Regions from separate parts of the Homo sapiens genome. Here regions 2 and 3 are each linked to region 1. Evidence: fine-mapped expression QTL. A gene starts in region 1. Each other region holds a variant in brackets. All regions are shown on one strand. Distances are from middle to middle. Region 1 holds the start of TMEM45B (transmembrane protein 45B). Region 2 overlaps TMEM45B (transmembrane protein 45B). Region 3 overlaps TMEM45B (transmembrane protein 45B).

The links.
Region 2: its variant is fine-mapped to the expression of TMEM45B in whole blood (TOPMed, PIP above 0.99).
Region 3: its variant is fine-mapped to the expression of TMEM45B in whole blood (TOPMed, PIP 0.99).

What each region holds. Positions count from the first base shown.
Region 1 is chr11:129,810,374-129,821,560 of GRCh38, forward strand. TMEM45B (transmembrane protein 45B) reads left to right here and starts at 5,475. Exons shown (of 6, transcript NM_138788.5): 1 at 5,475-5,525. LOC124902793 (a long non-coding RNA gene) reads right to left here and starts at 4,314. Exons shown (of 2, transcript XR_007062952.1): 1 at 3,595-4,314.
Region 2 is chr11:129,850,578-129,855,659 of GRCh38, forward strand. TMEM45B (transmembrane protein 45B) reads left to right here. Exons shown (of 6, transcript NM_138788.5): 2 at 1,898-2,083; 3 at 4,033-4,239. The coding sequence starts at 1,906. Among named protein-coding and RNA genes, the nearest start is that of TMEM45B, 37 kb to the left of the region's middle. The variant A/G (reference allele first, on the strand shown) is at 2,634.
Region 3 is chr11:129,857,166-129,862,165 of GRCh38, forward strand. TMEM45B (transmembrane protein 45B) reads left to right here. Exons shown (of 6, transcript NM_138788.5): 5 at 148-293; 6 at 1,409-2,838. The coding sequence ends at 1,520. Among named protein-coding and RNA genes, the nearest start is that of NFRKB, 36 kb to the right of the region's middle. RefSeq lists enhancers at 4,563-5,000, 4,669-4,963. The variant T/C (reference allele first, on the strand shown) is at 3,035.

The sequences.
Region 1 (11,187 bases):
TCAGGATACAAAAATCAATGTTCACAGGTCAGTAACACCACTAAATACCAACAGTGACCAAGATGAGACACAAATCAAGAACTCGATCCCTTTTACAACAGCTGCTATATGTATTATATATATTATATATTATAATGTTTTATTTTATAATATATAATATGTTATTTCAGCATTGCTTTATGATTAAAACCCTCAGAAAAATTGGCATGGAAGGGACATACCTCAAGGTAATAAAAACTATCTATGACACACACACATATATATATATATAAAACCAAGCAGGTGAAAGACCTCTACAAGGAAAACTACAAAACACTGCTGAAAGAAATCACTGATGACACAAACAAATGGAAACACATCCCATGCTCATGGGTAGATTCAATATTGTGAAAGCTGTCAAAAGCAATCTACACATTCAGTGCAACTCCTATCAAAGTACCATCATCATTCTTCACAGAACTAGAAAAAAAAATCTAAAATTCATATGGAACCAAAAAGGACCCCTCATAACCAAAGCAAGACTAAGCAAAAAAAAAAAAAAAAAAAAAAAAAAAAACATCTGGAGGCATCGCATTAACTGACTTCAAACTATCCTACAAGATTTATACCAGTACCAAAACAGCATGGTACCAATATAAAAATAGGCACATAGACCAATGGAACAGAATACAGAACCCAGAAATAAAGCCAAATACTTACAACCAACTCATCTTCAACAAAGAAAGCAAAAACACAAATAGGGAAGGGGCACCCTATTCAACAAATGGTGCTGGGATAACTGTCTAGCCACATACAGAAGAATGAAACTGGATCCTCATCTCTTACCTTATACAGACATCAACTCAAGATGGATCAAACACTTAAATGTAAGACCTGAAACCATAAAAACTTTAGAAAATAACGCTGGAAAAACTCTTCTAGACATTGGCTTAGGCAAAGATTTTAAGACCAAAAACCCCAAAGCAAATCTAACAAAAACAAAAATAAATAGATATTACCTAATGAAAACACTTCGGCACAGCAAAATAATCAGCAGTGTAAACAGACACCTCACTGAATGGGAGAAAATATTCAACTATGCGTCCTACAAAGGACTAATATGCAGAATCTACAAGGAACTCAAATCAGTAAGAAAAAAAGAAATAATCCCATCAAAAAGTGGGCAAAGAACATGAATAGACAGTTCTCAAAAGAAGATACACAAATGACTAACACATGAAAAAGAATGCTCAACATCACTAATTATCAGGGAAATGCAGATTAAAACCACAATGAAATACCACCTTACTTCTGCAAGACTGGCCATAATTTACAAAGTCAAAAAATAGTAGATGTTTGCATAGATGTGATGAAAAGGGCACTTTTACACTGATGGTGGGAATATAAACTAGTACATCCACTGTGGAAAACTTTATGGAGATTCCTTAAAGAACTAAAAGTAAAACTACCATTTGATCCAGCAGTCCCACTATTGAGTATATATCCAGAAGAAAAGAAGTCATTATATGAAAAAGCCACTTGCATCTGCATGTTTATAGGAGCAAAATACACAATTGCAAAAATATGGAACCAGCCTAAATGCCCCTCGACTGACAAGTGGATAAAGAAAATGTGATATATTTACACCATGGAATACTACTCAGCCATAAAAAGGACTGAAGTAATGGCATTTGCAGCAATTTGTACGGGAGTTGGAGACCACTATTCCAAGTGAAGTAACTCAGGAATGGGAAACCAAATATCGTGTATGTTCTCACTTATAAGGGTTTGCTGAACTATGAGGATGCAAAGGCATAAGAATGATATAATGGGCCGGGTGCAGTGGCTCACAACTGTAATCCCAGCACTTTGGGAGGCCAAGGCAGGCGGATCATGAAGTCAGGAGATTGAGACCATCCTGGCTAACATGGTGAAACCCTGTCTCTACTAAAAATACAAAAAATTAGTCGTCGTGGCACGCGCCTGTAGTCCCAGCTACTCAGAGGTCTGAGGCAGGAGAATCGCTTGAACTTGGGAGGCAGAGGTTGCAGTGAGCTGAGATTGCGCCACTGCACTCTAGCCAGGGCGACAGAGCAAGACTGTCTCAAAAAAAAAAAAAAAATACATACATACATACATATATATATATATATATATATATATATATATATATAATGGACTTTGGGGACTCAAGGGAAAGTGGGAGGAGGGTGAGGGATAAAAGACTATACATTGGGTACAGTGTACACTGCTCAGGTGATGAGTACACAAAAATCTCAGAAATCACCACTAAATAACTTATCCATGTAACAAAAAAATGACCTGTTCCCCAAAAACTATTGCAATTTTTAAAAATGTAAACATTAGCCATGCGTGTTGATGCACACCTGTAGTCCCAGCTACTTAGGAAGCTGTGGCAAGAGTATCTCTTGAGCGTTGGAGGTCGAGGCTACAGTGAGCTATGATTGCACCACTGAACTTCATCCTGGGCAACAAAGTGAGCCCGTCTCAAACACACACACACACACACAACAAAAAATTGGTTTTGTCCTGGTACCTGGTTATTATAATTTGAAGCAGAAATTATTTTGTTTAGATTTTTTAATATTAAGAAGCATCTCCGTCGGGCGAGGTGGCTCACACCTCTAATCCCAGCACTTTAGGAGGCTGAGGTGGGCAGATCACCTGAGGTCGGGAGTTCAAGAACAGTCTGACAAACATGGAGAAACCCCGACTCTACTAAAAACACAAAATTAGCTGGGCATGGCGGCGCATGCCTGTGATCCCAGCTACTCAGGAGAGTGAGACACGAGAGTCACTTGAACCCAGGAGGCCAAGGTTGTGGTGAGCCGAGATCGCGCCATTGCACTCCAGCCTGGGCAACAAGAGCAAAACTGTCTCAAAAATAAAAAGTAAAAAAAAAAAAAGCATCTCTACTCACCATTAACTATACAATTAAGAGGTCACACCTTTGTTTCATCATCGTAGACAAGGTAAATATTACTAAAGAAAATGCCTGTCCATAAAAGGGATCTGGTGACAGAGGACAGCCTCTCCCAGAGTAACAGGCATCCAGGACTCCACTCTATCAACGATTTCTAAAACAATGGGTGTGAGCAAGGGCTAGGATGAGATGTGTGATTAAGTTCCTGAGCTGACGGCAAATTTAAAAGATGCCCTCTCAGCTCCTGGCTGCGGCCCATCCTCCCTGTAAGGTGCACGACTCCATGACGCTTTTCACTGACGGCACTACCTCTTGGCCATTACCACCTCCCACCAGATCCCATTCGCTCTGTTTTACCAGGGAAAGGTCTGCTCCAGTTAATGCCTTATCCTTCACAGTGATGTTCTTTGACTTTATAAAAACGGAGCCATTTGGTCAACAGGCTGCCCGTCGGATCCCGTGTCCTTCTGCACTGCTAATATCTAGCTGTGGCCCTGCTTTAAAACCCAAATGCAAACATCTCTTCCATGAAGCCCTTCCTGATTGCCAGTGCCCTCAACAGTGGAATAAGCTGCCAGGCATCTTAGAGATCTAGACCCGTGGTTCTCAACCCCCACTTCCCCAGGCCTCCTGAGAAGCTTTTAATAGGTGCATCAGCCCTGGATTCTTACCGGCAGGACTGAGAGGGAGCCTTAACGCTTGTGTTCTTCTAATAGTGTGCACAGGGTTGACGGGAAACACACACACACACAGTGCAGAACCATTCCACGAAGCTGTGTATCCGGAATTGGTTCCCTCTGAAGAGTTCCTGGTCCCGGTCCTGCCGCGGACCTTCACGGCATTATAGTTCTTAAACATGGTGTGTCCGGAGTTTGTTCCTTCAAATGTTCAGGTGTGTCCGAAGTTTTTTCTTTCTAGAGAGTTCGTGGTCTATGCACGACTTGATGAGTGAGGCCGCGGACCTTCGCAGGGAGTGTTACAGCTCTTAAAGGTGGCGCATCCGCGTTGTTCCTTCCTCCCAGCGGGTTCGTAGTTTCGCCGACCTCAGGAGTGAAGCCACAGACCTTCGCAGGGAGTGTTACACCTCTTAAAAGTGGTGCGTCTGGAGTTGTTTGCTCCTCCCTGTGGGTTCGTGGTGTCGCTGACTTCAGGAGTGAAGCCACAGACCTTCACAGTGAGTGTTATGGCTCTTAAAGGTGGCGGCTCCAGAGTTGTTTCTTGTGGTGGCTTCCTGGTCTCGCTGGTTTACAGGAGTGAACCTGCAGACCTTCACTGTGAGTGTTAAAGCTCATAAAGGTAGTGTGGACCTAAAAGGTGAGCAACAGCAAAATTTATTGCAAAGAGCGAAACAACAAAACCCCAACACCATCGAAGGGGACCCAAACGCAGCTGCCGCTGGCTCGGATGGCCAGCTTTTATTCCCTCATTGGCCCCGCCCACATCCTCCTGATTGGTCCTGCCCACATCCTCCTGATTGGTCCATTTTACAGAGCGCTGATTGGTCCATTTTACAGAGTGCTGATTGGTCCATTTTACAGAGTGCTGATTGGTCCGTTTTTACAGAGTGCTGATTGATGTGTTTACAAACCTTTAGCTAGACATAGAGCATTGATTGGTGCATTTACAATCCTTTGGCTAGAGAGAAAAGTTCTCCAAGTCCCCACCAATTAGCTGGACACAGAGCACTGATTGGTGCATTTTTACAGAGTGCTGATTGGTGTGTTTACAAACCTTTAGCTAGACACAGAGTGCAGATTGATGCTTTTACAATCCTTTAGCTAGACAGAAAAGTTCTCCAAGTCCCCATCCGACCCAGAAGCCCAGCGGGTTTCACCTCTCAGTAGCTTACAGAAGAGGACCCTGCTGCCACAGCACAATACCACAAAGAAAGTCATGCTCTCCTCAGCAGGTAGCCCCCTTCTCCGGGACAGGAACTTTGTTTCCTTCTTAGCTCTATCGCCAGCACCTAGAACAGTGCCCACCTGTCAGATCTGTTATCAGATGGGAACATGGCAGATTTGTTGAATGAATGAAGGAATGAATGAACTATGTGACACTCAAACTTAGCCACCAAACTTAAACTAAAAAAACTGGGTTGTGGTCCCTGATGGACCGTTGGCACCTTCTTCCTTTGCTGGACGGTGATCCGTGGCTGTTTCTGCGGTGTGTTCGCAGTGGTTGCCTGGCTTGGTAACAAACACTCTTCGGAGCCACAGCCTGTTCTCAGGGTCCTCGCCGCCTCCCAGGCCCTGCGATCTCTTTGCATCTCAGGAGGTCCAGGTTGGTTGCAGTCCTCTTGGGTGACTCAGGAACCAGCCTCTCCTGAAGCACACAGCTTAGGGAGTTCCTGAGGCCAGAGACATCTCCACGGGAAAGTCAAAGGCCTGGAGGAAGTGCGGACCTGACGACAGATGCCCCGCACGCTGGCCGGGACCGGGAAGGGCGGTCAAGGGTGGAAAGGGGCTGGCGGCTGCCAGGCCTGGCGGAGTGGAGCGGGGCGGGGCGCAGCGGGGCGGGGCGGGCCTGGAGCTGCACCTGCTTCTGGGCGGACGCACTTGGCGCGCGGCGCGGGCTGCAGACGGCTGCGAGGCGCTGGGCACAGGTCAGACGTCCGTACCCGCAGGGGGCTCGAACCTGGAGGAGGGCTCGAAGGGAGAGGGGGCCCCGCCAAGGAGCGGGGCTGTGATGGAGAGGAGGTTCCGACTCGCAGGGGACCTGCGGGGGAGGGGACGCGGACAGGGAGGGGCTCTGGGACAGGGGTGAAGGCTGCGCTAGGGGAGGACGGGAGGGGATGGAGGGCCCTGGTGTCGCGGAAGCCCAGCTGGGGCCCCCTCCGGGCTGCGGAACCGGTGCGCACACTACTCCCACCGCCCCCGAGTGCCTCTGTCCGGCTGGCCGCGGCCCTGGAACGAATATTGCTCAGTCCCCCGCGAGTCAGGTCTGCCGCGTTGCCCGGTGAGGGGAAGGTGTGAAGCCCCGGGCCTCCGTCTGCCCGGTGAGTCCGGGGACGCGCGCCCCCGGGGATGCCATCTGGCTCCTGGGCTGTGACCAGTCACAGCTCACATAGCTCTGGGCACTGGTACCGACTGCCTTTCCTTGTTAGCTGCGATACACAAATACACGAGCCAGATCCTTTCCTGAGGCCAGGAAGCCTGGAATCTAATAACACCGGGCGGTGGATAAAGTCCCCCGAGCCAGTGCTTAGCTTCCGTTAATGGAGCCATGGATGGAAGCGGATGTCAGGCGCAGTGGGGGAGAAATTTGCGGGGGTGGCCCTGTCTAGGGCCAGAGAAACAACCTCTGAAGCTTTGATCCAGCCCTAGAGGGAAGAAAGATGTGAGTTTCAGCCAGGGAAACGTAGCACTTTAAGAAATAGAAACCCTTTCAAAATTTGAGGGCAGGTAGCTCTCCTAAAAGTTGCAGAAATGGCCACTTCTTTTTTTTTTTTTTTTTTTTTTTGAGACGGAGTCTCGCTCTGTCGCCCAGGCTGGAGTGCAGTGGCGCAATCTCGGATCACTGCAAGCTCCACCTCCCGGGTTCACACCATTCTCCTGCCTCAGCCTCCCGAGTAGCTAGGACTACTGGCGCCCGCCACCACGCCCGGCTAATTTTTTGTATTTTTTTTTTTTTTGGTAGAGACGGGGTTTCACCGTGTTAGCCAGGATGGTCTCGATCTCCTGACCTCATGATCCACCCGCCTCAGCCTCCCAAAGTGCTGGGATTACAGGCGTGAACCACCGCGCCCAGCTAGAAATGGCCACTTCTTTCACGTTCTCTTCGACCGCTTTCTGCGGTGTCTGCCCTTTTCCTCCTCCTGCACCTTTTTGTCTCCTAGGGTCGCATAGCCTTCCAAACAGGCCTGCCTACAGCATTTTACCTGCAATTTTACACTCATTTTAATAGAAAGGATGGCTTATTGTTCATGAGAGACGTGTACTGTTTTTAACCAGATGTGTAATATCTTCAGTATAACCTGGATGTTGTGCAGTGGGAAGTTATGGAAAGAATCAGGACACGTGGTTAGGTAGGGGCCCAGGGGCGTCAGACTTAGCTCTTTGTGACAGTGAGCTTCTTGGTTTAATAAGGATATTGGCTCCCTCTGTTCCTGGGGTTTCTGGGAAAAGATATGGAACTGATATGAAGGTTTTATTGAATATGGCCCACTGATTTTACAAGTGGAGGTGACTGAGATAAGCAGAAGGTGAGGCATGACCTCTGGCTGTGCATTATTTGTTCTGATATTACAGGAGCCAAGCATTCCATTTCCTTCTTTTTAAAGAGCTTTGATTTCCTCTCACATCTTCATGAAGATGGAAACAGTGCCCCCACTTACTTATCCTCAGGCCACACCTGTTCCCATTTATTCCATGAGTTCCTCCCACACCCTTCTGGTTGATGTTGGTTGTGATGGTCGAGGTAATTGAATCTCACATTTGGCACCAGTTATTTCTGTTTCTCATCTCCCCCCTACCTGCAGTTAAACATCAGCTGCTATACTTAACTGTTCAAAGTACAGATGTTACCTGTGTTGGGTGTAATCAAAAGATTATCTCTTTTCCTCAAATGAAAAATGGGTGAGGACAGTTTCACCACACATAGAGTCACTCCCCTAGCCAAAGTCCTTGCTATTGCAAAACTTTTTACTGTAAGAGAATTAAAGTCACTAGTGTGTCATCAACTAATGGTACTTATAGACACATTCCATATTTGTTTCTATAGAAAGATCATAAGACAAACACTAGATTATTCCCAGTATGAGACCATACTGAATATGAACAATTAGAGGCCACAGGTGAGTGCTGTCCTCCTCACACTTTCTTTGAACTCTTAAGCTTCTACTCTTTTAACCAGCTACCCCTCTCCCCAAAACCTTCACTGAGGCTAGAAACAAACACAAATAGACTATTTGAATTTTAGCAAATTTTATCTCTCTTTTCTATTCTCTTGTGTAAAACTTAAATGGCCACAAGCTACACTACTGGAGGAAAAAGGAAAGCTAAAAGGTCTATCAGCCTTCTGTATGTGATGCAGAGTTCAACTGAATATAGCAAGGTACACACCCGCATTCTCCTTGCCAGGACTTAGATATCATAAGCCATTATCTTGCTGGTTGTTGAAATCATAATGGGGCTTTATAGAGCACAAGGCGATGTTTGTAAACAGCACTGTTCAGGTCAGATTAGAATCCGTATTTCAAAAATGAGGAGATGGAAACAGAGATATTGTGTATGTGGTCCAGGGTTAGCCAGTAATTAAATGGCAGAGCCAGAACTCAAACCAACATTCCTTCCAGAATACCACAGCTGCCTCTGGAGTGGTTTTTGTTGTTCTTGTTGAATTTTGTGATGGAAGATTGTGATTTGTTTTTCCCGAACACTTAATATGTTTTCTGACTTGAATTATCAGAATCTAAATTTAGAAACTCTCTCGTTTGGTATATTTCATGCCCATCTTTGTTCCATATAATTACAAAAATATCTTAGAGCTGAGTATAACCTTAAAGATTGTCAAGTCCAATCTTGTGGTTTTTCAAGGAAGAAAACCGGATTTAAGAAAAATAAAGCAAGTACCTCATGTTGCTTCCCCAAATCTACTTCATTGGAGAATTACAGCTAAAAACAATGTTCAGATTTTTGCTCCTTCTGTCATGTGGTCCCTTGAGAATTTGCCAAATGTATAAATCCAGTGACTTATTTTGATGTACTCTTTTGGTTTGAGGTCTGTGACAGCAAACATAACCTCCTTGAATCCCAGCCTCAAATGCCTATGGACCTTCTGTTCTAACTGTTATTATAACTGTAGCCGTTATTATAGTGGCTAAAGTTCTAACTTCTGTTCTAACTGTGCTCCTGGTTCCATGACAAAGAGAGCTTTACTTGTCTTATTCCTAGCACAGTGCCCATAGCAGGCATACATAAAATGTGGTATGTCAGATAAACATCTGAAAAAGTGTGAGATGTCATTAGACGTTCATTCAGCTACAAGAACAGAAAACCCTACTACAGCGGCTTAAACAAGTAAGGAGTTTGTTTTTCTCAGAGAACGAGAAGTCTGGAGGTGAGAAGGCTGGGGCTGGGAAAGGGGTTCCGATATGAACGTCATCTGAGACAGGCTCCTTGTGTCTTCCCGCACCACCCTCCTTAGCATGGAGCTTTCATACTCACTTCCGCAAGTTGCAGCAGAAAGACGGGCAGAGGCATGCTCCAGAAGAGTCTTGTCTTGTCTTTTCTTTTCTTTTCTTTTCTCTCTTCTTTTCTTTTCTCTCTCTCTCTCTCTGTCTCATCTCTTTCTTTCTTTTGACTCAGAGTCTCTCTCAGTGGCACAATCTCGGCTCACTGCAACCTCCGCTTCCTGGGTTCAAGTGATTCTCCTGCCTCAGCCTCCAAGTAGCTGGGATTACAGACGTGCACCACCACGCCCAGCTAATTTTTGTATTTTTAGTAGAGACGGGGTTTCACCATGTTGGTCAGGCTGGTCTTGAACTCCTGACCCTGTGATCTGCCCCCCTCGGCCTCCCAAAGTGCTGGGATTACAGATGTGAGCCACCACGCCTGGCCTGTCCTTCTTTATAATAAATAATAATAATAACAGCTTTTCTGGTAGCCCACCCCAAAAGACTTCTTACATGTCATTGGCCAGAACCATATCACATACACACTGTTAACGGTGACGGAACCAGAGAGAATCTAGTGTTTGAGACAGACACGTTGCCAATACATCAAAATAAGAATTTTGGGCCAGACACAGTGGCTCACGCCTGTAATTCCAGCATTTTGGGAGGTCAAGGCGGGTGGATCACCTGAGGTCAGGAGTTCAAGACCAGCCTGGCCAACATGGTGAAACCCCATCTCTACTAAAAACACAAAAAATCAGCCGGGCGTGCTAGCAGGCGCCTATAGTCCCAGCTACTCAGGAGGCTGAGGCAGGAGAATCGCTTGAACCCAGGAGGCAGAGGTTGCAGTGAGCCGAGATCATGCCACTTGCACTCCAGCCTGGACAACAAGAGCGAAACTCCATCTCAAAAAAATAATAATAACAACAAAATAGGAATTTTGTTAATAAGGCGGGGGGAGAATGAACATTGGGTAGGCAGCTAGCAGCATCTGCCATAGTGTGTTTTATGAGTCATAGATCCTGTCTCTAAATAGGTTGTTATTTGTTTTGGTTTTTTGTTTGTTTTACTAAAAAGCAATGGGTAATGCAGTGGGTCCAGGGGAACTTTTTTAAATGGTAGAGTGCAAGGACCACTCTGAGAACTGCTGATTATGTAGGTCTGGGCTGGGTCTATAATTCTCCATTATGGACGGGCACGCCAGGTCATCTGAGGGCAGGTGGTTGCGGGAATACATTTTGAGAAACACCGAATGTCAGGTAGTTTAGCAAAAGCGACTTTATTTTATTTCTGTTAGCTTTTTGCCTCACTCCTCTTGAGGGTATACTTTATTTTTTAATTATCTGCTTTGGTCAACATAAATCAATGTATAGTCTTAGAAGTCGTTCATTGTAGAAGGTTTTCATTGAGTTTATACTGAGTATAGAACCCTAGCGGCAATTACTTTCAATGCTTTGGGTTGTGTTTTTCTGATATTACCATATTCTAAATAGCATGCAGATACGGGCCATTTCTTCTTCTCTTTTCCAGTTCTGGATGACATCTATTGACATCCTACCAAGAAGGATGAGGGTTTCGCTCCTTTACACCCCCACCCTCCCTCTCACCTTCACATCCCTTTCTTTTAAGTTCCCAGTACGGTTATATCCTAAATTTTTGATATGTCAATGTTTGGTGTATATATTATTCCCAACTAAGGCACATGATACACCATGATCTTTACATTTCCCTTCTTGACCAGTCTTTCCCCCAACCCCCTGGAATGGGGTGTAGGAGTTGCTACATTTTCTTTAGTTGTTTGAGAACTCATCACCAAGAAGTCATTTCCTGGAGCCAAGGAAACTCATGGGGGCCCTCTGAGTGCTGCTAATTGCATGGAGCTGTTGAGTGGGGAGGAAACGCCAGGCCGCCATCAAGAAGCATTTGGGGTAAATTTTCCAAGCACATCTGAAAAGACAGAGTCTAGAACCTCCACGGTCCCTGTCTGTTGTGATTTATTTTCTCATTCTAAATACACACACACTTTTTTTTTCTGTCTAGGCCATCTCTTGTGGAATACATATGTACTTTCATACCCAATTATGTACAGTTTTTGTAATTTTACGCCTTTTTCTTAAAGAAGGCTCCCAAAAGTGTATAAGATTCAGGCCCC
Region 2 (5,082 bases), 37 kb after region 1:
GAAGTCCTAGGAAACGACATAATTCAGGTAAGTTCTTTACCACTTTCTAACAAGGATAACCTTTCTTCTAGTTTCCAATACCTTGTTCTTTATTTCTGTCTGAGACCTCATCAGAATTGCCTTCACCATCGGTATCTCTATCAACATTCTGTTCATGACCACTTAGGCAATCTCTAAGAACGAGGCTTTCCCCACAGCTCATATCCCACATCTACAGCTCTCCTCTTCTTCTGAGCCCTCACCAGAATCATCCTTAGTGCTCCGTTCATGGCAATCCAGGCTTTTTTCAGCACTCACTTCAAAGCTGTTCCAGCTTGTATTCATTATCCAGTTCCAAAGCCACCCCCACATTTTTACATATTTGTTATAACCCCTGGTTATAAATGTTATAAACTCCTCTGGTACCAATTTCTGTCTTAGTCCCTGTTGTGCTGATATCACACAATACGCAGACTGGGTAATTTATAAAGAACAACAATTTATTTCTCACTGTTCTGAAAGCTGGGAAGTCCAAGATCAAGGCAGCAGCATCTGGTGTCTGCTGAGGGCTGCATCCTCACATGCAGGAGGACAAACAGGGGACCAGCTCCCTCCAGCCAACCCCTGTATGAGGGAGGGCATCTGCTCCTAGTTCAGGAGGGAGGGGCCCTCATGGCCTAGTCCCTTCTTAAAAGTCCTCTTCTCGGCCGGGTGTGGTGGCTCACACCTGTAATCCCAGCACTTTGGGAGGCCGAGGTGGGCAGATCACCTAAGGTCAGGAGTTCGAGAAAAGCCTGGCCAACATGGTGAAACCCCGTCTCTACTAAAAATATAAAAATTAGCCAGGCGTGGTGGCGGGTGCCTGTAATTCCAGCTACTCGGGAGGCTGAGGCAGGAGAATCGCTTGAACCTGGGAGGCAGAGGTTGTAGTGAGCCAAGATCGTGCCACTGCACTCCAGCCTGGGTGACAGAGTGAAACTCTGCCTCAAAAAAAAAAAAAAAGTCCCCTTCTCTTAATGCTATCACCTTGGCAACACCTGGATTTTGGAGGGGACACATTCAAACCACAGCAATCACCAACAACTGGTATTTTTCTCCCACCCTACATATTCTTTAGGTAACCACCCAGGCCAGTGGGGAAAATAATCAATCTACTTCTGAATAAATCCTAGCTATAGTTTCATGCTACTGCAAATGGGATAACAGCAAATCATGCCTGAAAATTTTTGGAATAAGGTGATGTTTACATCGTTATGCTGATTTTTACAAACTGTGAATCATATTGACCAGGTTCATTTGTACTAGACCACCACACCAAAACTTTATAAAATTATTTTCCAGTTGGGTGAAAAATGATGTTGTGCTTTCGTTTGCCCATCTCTAATTTCCGGGAGATTTATAATTTGTTTGTATTATTTTGTGAATCATCCGTTCATGTCTTCTGCCTATTCTTCTACGGTCTTTTTCTTATCAATTTGTAAAGACTCTAATGTAATAGCCAACTGCTACAAGCATGTTTCTGATTTGTTGTTTACCTTTTGATGTTCTTGATATTAAAAGATGCTTATATAGCTGAACGTTTTTCTTTTCTAGTTCCCCCCTTTATGTTTATGGCTTGGAAGTTTTCTCTATCTGAGATCAATAAATATTACCTATCCTCCTCTTTCCCCACCCTCATCCTTTTATTTTACCCACATGTTTAAAGCATTACAGACAGTGGAGTCCAGTTGGTTATGCAACTCACTTTACAGATGAGACTTCAGTGACGTAACATAAGGCTTGTTTTATGAGAATGTGTTGATCCTTCTTAACGTGGCTTATGATTTGCAATCTCAGGCACGTATTGTGTTTCCTGCCAAAATATACATTTGTTTGCTTGCTTCATTAGCCACCTAACAGCCTTCCCCTAATTTTTTAGGTGTCCTGATGGCAAATTTCAAGGGCCACGCGCTTCCAGGGAGTTTCTTCCTGATCATTGGGCTGTGTTGGTCAGTGAAGTACCCGCTGAAGTACTTTAGCCACACGCGGAAGAACAGCCCACTACATTACTATCAGCGTCTCGAGATCGTCGAAGCCGCAATTAGGACTTTGTTTTCCGTCACTGGTAAGAGCAGGGGTCATTTGGTCTAGGGAATCTCCTCATCATACCCAGAACCTTTAATTCATTTTCTGAGCCCTGTGAAATAGATGTTCCCACTGGCAGAGATAATAGGGCAACAATTTCCTGATGGCCACTAGACTATTTTATCGTAACATCCATTGTGTACAGAGCTTTATAATACTAACGGTTGACAGCTCTCACATCATGGGACACTGTGAAAAACTCAAATCAACAAGGACACAGGTATGGAAAGTTGTAGGAGCAAAACACCCACTGTATGAAAAAGATATGACACAAATAAAAAGAGAAAAAAACAAAATAGATTAGGCTCACGTACCTTAGTTGTGACAAAGTAGAAAAATCACCTTTTTTCCTCAATTGTCTCTCCCTCCAGATCCTTACAGTAGTTAACACCCAACCCACTGGCTTATCTTCATCCTCAAGTCTCAAGCGCTTATAGAGAGTTTATGTAGATTCGTAAATTAGCCAGTGGGAGAGAAAAAGCAGCAGAGGGCTGTTGAAGAGGAATTTTCCTTCACTCTGCCCCATTCCA[A/G]CAAGATCCACCCACTCCCACTGTTTCCTTCGCATCCACTCCGCTCCACTGCGGCCCTCCAGGAACAAGCAGTGATGACAGTAACAAGTGTTCTTCCTCAGGACCAGCCCCACCTGGGGGGAATGAGGGGTCTTAATCTGCAACTGACAATTACCACTTGTCATCAGTGGCCTATGGCTTCTTGGAGAGAGTGAAGCAACATCGCTTCTCTTGGAGGAAGCAAAGCTTCACAGGGCTTTGTTGGTCTCATCCTGCTGAATGTCCCCACTCACCATTCAGGCATCAGAGAGGCCTCCCGTGAGAAGTGACAGGGACCTGTGGCTTAAAGGATCAGGACAGCATCAACCTTGCCTAAATAAAGCTAGGACAATTACAATATTTGGCCCCTTGACTGGGTGAAAATGGTACTCATTCAACAGCTCTCTGGCACTCCTACCACAAGCCAGGAAGTCACTGTTCCAGGCATAGGAGATACACTGGGGAACCACACAGCCGCTGCTGTCACAGGGCTTCCATTCTAGTGTCACTGGGACTTTTCCTGGGTCATTTCCACAACTTCCTGACTCTGTGTGTGGGAATTCAAAAAGGGTCTGGCTTGAGAAACAAGTATCTGGGAAACGGAGTCCAAAATGTCATCATGGAGGATTTCTTCTAGGCTTCCCCAAGAACACTTTGGGTACCAGGCATAAAGACAAATCTTTTGCCTTCCAAATTAGCTGATAAAAGTAGAAGGGATAAGAACTAAGAGCTATCCTGTGTCGCAGTTTCGTCATTTTCTGGCCCACATCCTGGGGCCTCTGCCTTGTTTACCCGGTGTTTTAAAACACACAGCTGGGAGGGGCGCAGGGCTTGCAGAGCTGGCTCTGTGCCCAGGAAGGACACGCACTCAAAATCAGCCCTGCAGACACGCACCTGGGAGCCGCTTCCCTCCCTTGGCACGTACAGGTATCTTCATTACCAGTGTGTCTCTGCTCAGATTCTGCTTTCAGCCTAATTGTTTCTGTCTGGGATTTCTTTCACTGCTCACTTGGCAGGGAAGCCCAGAGATTATTCTATCAGCCACACTCCGACTTAAGTGATGATGTCTTGCTCATCTCTGCTCCTGGACAAACCTCCTGGGGATCTATGTGTGTGTGGTTGTGTTCATTGATTCTTCTACCCTCAACCCCAAACCCCTAAAAGGAACAACAATGGCAAGATGTCTACACAGGTGACTCAGCACACACCCTACTTTATACTGAAGCAGCTGCACCTGAGGCAGCAAAGTAGCTCTGCTGACCCGCGGGCCACCCTCACCTCACCCCATCTCCGCTTCGCTCATGCCTTTGGGTTATTCCTTGCTCCTATTTGTCTTAGAGCTACTCTTCCCTCTAAAACATCCATCCTCATTTCCCTGCAGGGATCCTGGCAGAGCAGTTTGTTCCGGATGGGCCCCACCTGCACCTCTACCATGAGAACCACTGGATAAAGTTAATGAATTGGCAGCACAGCACCATGTACCTATTCTTTGCAGTCTCAGGAATTGTTGACATGCTCACCTATCTGGTCAGCCACGTTCCCTTGGGGGTGGACAGACTGGTTATGGCTGTGGCAGTATTCATGGAAGGTAATTTTGTGGAACGGATGGAGAGGAAGGAGAGCCTGACAAGTCATATTTATGAAGGATCAGAGTACAAAATATCAGAAATGTTGCAAATATAATAACCTCCCCCAGAAAATCCACATCTCTGGACTGCCAAAACCTGAATAGGACCTAGTGCTCTACTCTGGATGGGCCAGGTGACATATTCCCTAAAGTAGCTCATGAAAGCTTTGAGGCTTGAAGGCAGCTACCAAAGCCCCGGCTAACACTGCAGGAGTCCTCCTCGCCTTCCCACTGCCGCCAGCAGCCCCTGCTCACACACGTGCATATTCCTCGGTGTGGACGTATGTGCGCACATACACATGCGGGTACACACAATGCCCCAGCTGGTTGAATGCCACCATGCAGGGGATACACCCCTTTGGTTAAGCGAAACCACACTCTACCTTTTGCCCAGGGAGGTACCGTCTTGCCTCCATCACAAGCCTCAGGAGACCCACTCCACTGCCAGGGGAGCGCTGCCAGTATGACTCACACTGACTGGGGTATGAAAATACATTTTGTCATCTAACAACCTCACTTCTGTACCTCAGCAAGAGTCGAAAAAGGTTGAGGGCAAAACTGAATTTCAAGTATACACACACAGTCTGTTACAAATCAGCAACATGCTTCAGCCGGCCCATCCTATACTGACCCCACCATGGGTTCCATAGAGATTTTAAGATACAATCCCTTGCTGCTTTATACTCCTAACATACTCATGAAATACACTTACTCGCATCTGTTTGCTGCCTGTAATGTTATGTACTAACTGCCTAAATGCTGAAGAACCTAGCTGAGACAGGTGTAGGAGGAAACTTCGGTGAT
Region 3 (5,000 bases), 44 kb after region 1:
ATGTGAAAAGGCCTTTCTATGCTAACGAAGTGTGGGAACTATGAGGCGGTGGTCACACATGGGCCACTTCGGTGGCCACAGGAGAACGGCTAGATTGCTTCTCAGGACGACCAACCACAAGACCAACTTCTCTCTGTAATCCCCTAGATTGGGTTTGTGCTGTTCCCACCTTTTGGAACACCCGAATGGGACCAGAAGGATGATGCCAACCTCATGTTCATCACCATGTGCTTCTGCTGGCACTACCTGGCTGCCCTCAGCATTGTGGCCGTCAACTATTCTCTTGTTTACTGGTATGTCTGAGACTTCAGTGAAGCTTTTCCTCCTAACTCTAAGCAGGACTGATGTGATTAACTTGCACCATCTGATGAGTGCCGACTACAGGCCAAATTCTGTGCAAGGTACTCTCATGCAGGGAAGGTATCACTACCCTTATTTGCAAACAAGGGGAATGAGGCTTTTCAAAGTTTAATGACCTGAGGGCTTTTCAAAGTCATAGTAACCTGAGGGACCCAGGTTTCAAATGCAGGTCTCACAGATTTTAAGCCTATGGTGTGGTGGGGAATACTGAAATGGGAATCAGTACTGGATGGCAGTCCCCACGTAAAGGGTTCATTCTGGACCCATCATCTTATTTCCAGACCTGCCCTCCCTGCTTCCCAGAAATGATGTGACAGTCAAAAAATAAACCAGAGCAGAATGTTAAGACAAACTGCACTCCACCCCTCACTGAAGGCTCCTTAGAGGTATACAGATAACAGCTATGGACTCCTATGCACTTGCTGCGCCCCAGGCCCAGTGGAAAGCAGCTACACTCTATTATCCCATTTAATCTTCACTGCTTTATGAAGTATGCACTGTTATTTTTTACAGGTGGAGAAAACAAGGCTTCAAAAAGCTGAGTAACTTGACCAAGGTCACCCCACTAATAAATGGCAGAGCCTCTCAGTGCAAGGGTGAATTTTAGCAAATGGTATTACCAGTTCTATTTGCTGTTCGGCTGCCTCTACCTTTTCTTCTAGGTCATTTCTCTAGATCCCAAGCAGAATATTAGGTTGGTGCAAAAGTAACGGTGATTTTTGCCATTATTTCATCCAGAAAGAGTTCCACACGGACCAAAGAGAAGGGAGCTCAAGTCAGTTTCTTTTAGTTCTCCTGCCCAGCCACTGAAACAGTAAACCAAGATAGGCAAGACCTTGGCCTCAATTATGACATTCAGTAGTTTCCACCATCGCCCCTTTATCTACTGATGAATATTTCCTAAGAAGTCTAGTTTATAGACATGTAATCACAGTATTTGATAGAAATATAAAGAAAATAGTTTAAGAATCAGTAGATGCCTTCACATCCTTGGTAATGGATTAAGGGAATCTCTGGCTAATTGGCTCTTACTCTTTCTCTATTAAAGCCTTTTGACTCGGATGAAGAGACACGGAAGGGGAGAAATCATTGGAATTCAGAAGCTGAATTCAGATGACACTTACCAGACCGCCCTCTTGAGTGGCTCAGATGAGGAATGAGCCGAGATGCGGAGGGCGCAGATGTCCCACTGCACAGCTGGAATGAATGGAGTTCATCCCCTCCACCTGAATGCCTGCTGTGGTCTGATCTTAAGGGTCTATATATTTGCACCTCCTCATTCAACACAGGGCTGGAGGTTCTACAACAGGAAATCAGGCCTACAGCATCCTGTGTATCTTGCAGTTGGGATTTTTAAACATACTATAAAGTCTGTGTTGGTATAGTACCCTTCATAAGGAAAAATGAAGTAATGCCTATAAGTAGCAGGCCTTTGTGCCTCAGTGTCAAGAGAAATCAAGAGATGCTAAAAGCTTTACAATGGAAGTGGCCTCATGGATGAATCCGGGGTATGAGCCCAGGAGAACGTGCTGCTTTTGGTAACTTATCCCTTTTTCTCTTAAGAAAGCAGGTACTTTCTTATTAGAAATATGTTAGAATGTGTAAGCAAACGACAGTGCCTTTAGAATTACAATTCTAACTTACATATTTTTTGAAAGTAAAATAATTCACAAGCTTTGGTATTTTAAAATTATTGTTAAACATATCATAACTAATCATACCAGGGTACTGCAATACCACTGTTTATAAGTGACAAAATTAGGCCAAAGGTGATTTTTTTTTAAATCAGGAAGCTGGTTACTGGCTCTACTGAGAGTTGGAGCCCTGATGTTCTGATTCTTCAAAGTCACCCTAAAAGAAGATCTGACAGGAAAGCTGTATAATGAGATAGAAAAACGTCAGGTATGGAAGGCTTTCAGTTTTAATATGGCTGAAAGCAAAGGATAACGAATTCAGAATTAGTAATGTAAAATCTTGATACCCTAATCTTGCTTCTGGATCTGTTCTTTTTTTAAAAAAACTTCCTTCACCGCGCCTATAATCCTAGCACTTTGGGAGGCCGAGGCAGGCAGATCACGGGGTCAGGAGATCAAGACCATCCTGGCTAACATGGTGAAACCCCGTCTCTACTGAAAATACAAAAAATTAGCCGGGTGTGGTGGCGGGCGCCTGTAGTTCCAGCTACTCGGGAGGCTGAGGCAAGAGAATGGCATGAACCCGGTAGGGGAGCTTGCAGTGAGCCCAGATCATGCCACTGTACTCCAGCCTAGGTGACAGAGCAAGACTCTGTCTCAAAAACAAGCAAACAGACTTCCTTCAACAAATATTTATTAAATATCCACTTTGCAACAGCACTGAAATGGCTGTAAGGACTCCTGAGATATGTGTCCAGCAAGGAGTTTACAGTCAAACAGGAGAGACATGCCTGTAGTTACATCCAGTGTGATGGGTGCTGAGAGGCAAGTACAAACCACGATGAGAAAAAGGAGAGGAGGGGAAATGCAGAGCTTGCCCTGTAGAAAAAGCACATCCCAGGTAGAGAGGGTAGCACATTAAAAAATGAAAGCATAAAAAAATACGGAGAACTTAAAAAGATTAAGTTCTACAAACTGATAAAAGTGAGTTAGGACCAAGTTGATGGGCCTTAGAGACCAAATAATACTTTCCGTGTGCA[T/C]AGTATTTTTCAGATTCTGAGATGCACCCTATCTCATTTGATTCTCACAACCGCTTGTAATGTGTAAGAGCATGAGGTCTTTCAGAAAAGCTGGCTGGCCTAGCAGGGCGCGGTGGCTCACGCCTGTAATCCCAGCACTTTTGGAGGCCGAGGCGGGTGGATCATGAGGTCAAGAGATCGAGACCATCCTGGCCAACATGGTGAAACCCTGTCTCTACTAAAAATATAAAAATTAGCTTGGTGTGGTGGTGAGCACCTGTAGTCCCAGCTACTTGGGAGGCTGAGGCAGGAGAATCACTTGAACCCAGTAGGCGGAGGTTGCACAGTGAGCCGAGATTATGCCACTGCACTCCAATCTGGCAACAGAGTGAGACTCCATCTCAAAAAAAAAGAAAAGTTGGCTGGCCTAAGACCACACAGATGCTAGGTGGCAAAGCCAGTCTTATGACTCCAAAACCAGGCATCTGTCTCACCATTCTAACCCTGCTACGTCACACAAATCCAGGAGAGAGAATTTACATAAAGCACTGCATGCGCTTTGGAAGAAATGCTGTACTTAATTAAGTGAAGGTAACCTCCCAGAGTTAGCCAGCCTTTCAGAGTTGAAGTCACAGCTTAGGGATTCAAAATGAGCTACTAAAAACACTAATTTAGTTATTAGAGAACTCCGGGTTCCACTTTCAGGATCCACCTTGGTTGGCCAGTGGAAAAACACAAGTATTCTTCATTCAACAAGTACTGAAGGACCTATTATTGGCAATGAACGTAACATGTGTTCTTTCCTTGGGGACTGCAGGTGGGCAGAAGGACCTGTTCAGTTTTACTTTCAAAGAAAAGATCCACATTTGAGGTTTCTTTAAGTGTACCATATTTTAAGAAAGAAAATGTACTATTTTCTCCAGAGTGAGGGGCTAAGGTGTGAAGAACAGATATAAAATATTAAAATGTATTCAGATGCCCTTCACACAGCAAGGCTTGTGATGCCTTCATGGAAGTGATCAACCCTATCATAAACATTGTTAGATGTGGTATTAAAGTATAAACTGATGACAGTACTATTCTCCACATCCTGTCTTAGATATGTTTTCTGAATAATTTTACCCATATCTGTCAACCAGAGGCTCAATGGTTGCCACCAGAAGTCCTTTTGAAATTGTTCCCTACAAAACACCCACCATGGCTGGGTGCAGTGGCTCACGCCTGTAATCCCAGCACTTTGGGAGGCTGAGGCAGACAGATCACCTGAGGTGACAAGTTGGAGACCAGCCTAGCCAAAATGGTGAAACCCCATTTCTACCAAAAATACAAAAATTAGCAGGGCGTGGTGGCACGTGCCTGTGATTGATCCCAACTACTCAGGAGGCTGAGGCAGGAGAATCACTTGAACCCAGGAGGCGGAGGTTGCAGTGAGCTGAGATCTTGCCGCTGCACTCCAGCCTGGGCTACAGAGTGAGACTCCATCTCAAAAACAAAAACAAAAACAAAACACTCACCATAGCTGTGCCATTCATCTATCAGAAACCTGAAGCCAGCATATGAAGGAAGCAAGTGTGGCACAAATCCTGGGCTGTCACCGTAAACAGCTCCAGTAGGAAGTTCCCATTCTCCGCTATTGCCATTCCACCCACAGGCTGGATAGTGCCGAAGTTACACTTCTGAGGAGTCAGCATCCTGACGCAGCCTAAACTTTACACTCACTCCCTGCTCTCCAGAATGCACACGTCTGCCTGTGCAAAAACGACAAGCAGAGTCAGGTGACCTCAGCTAACAGGAATGTGGGCAGGGCTGCGGCTGAATGCCAGAGCTACTTTTATTAAATTCCTTGTTAAGTAAATTCAAAAGGGGTTTGTTTGTAGCTGGCAGTAAATACCTAAGACAAGATCTCTGGAATTTCTACCTTTTTTTTTTTTTAATTTAAAAACTGTCACATGGCTTTCTATGTGAAATGTGATTCTTGAAAATAACA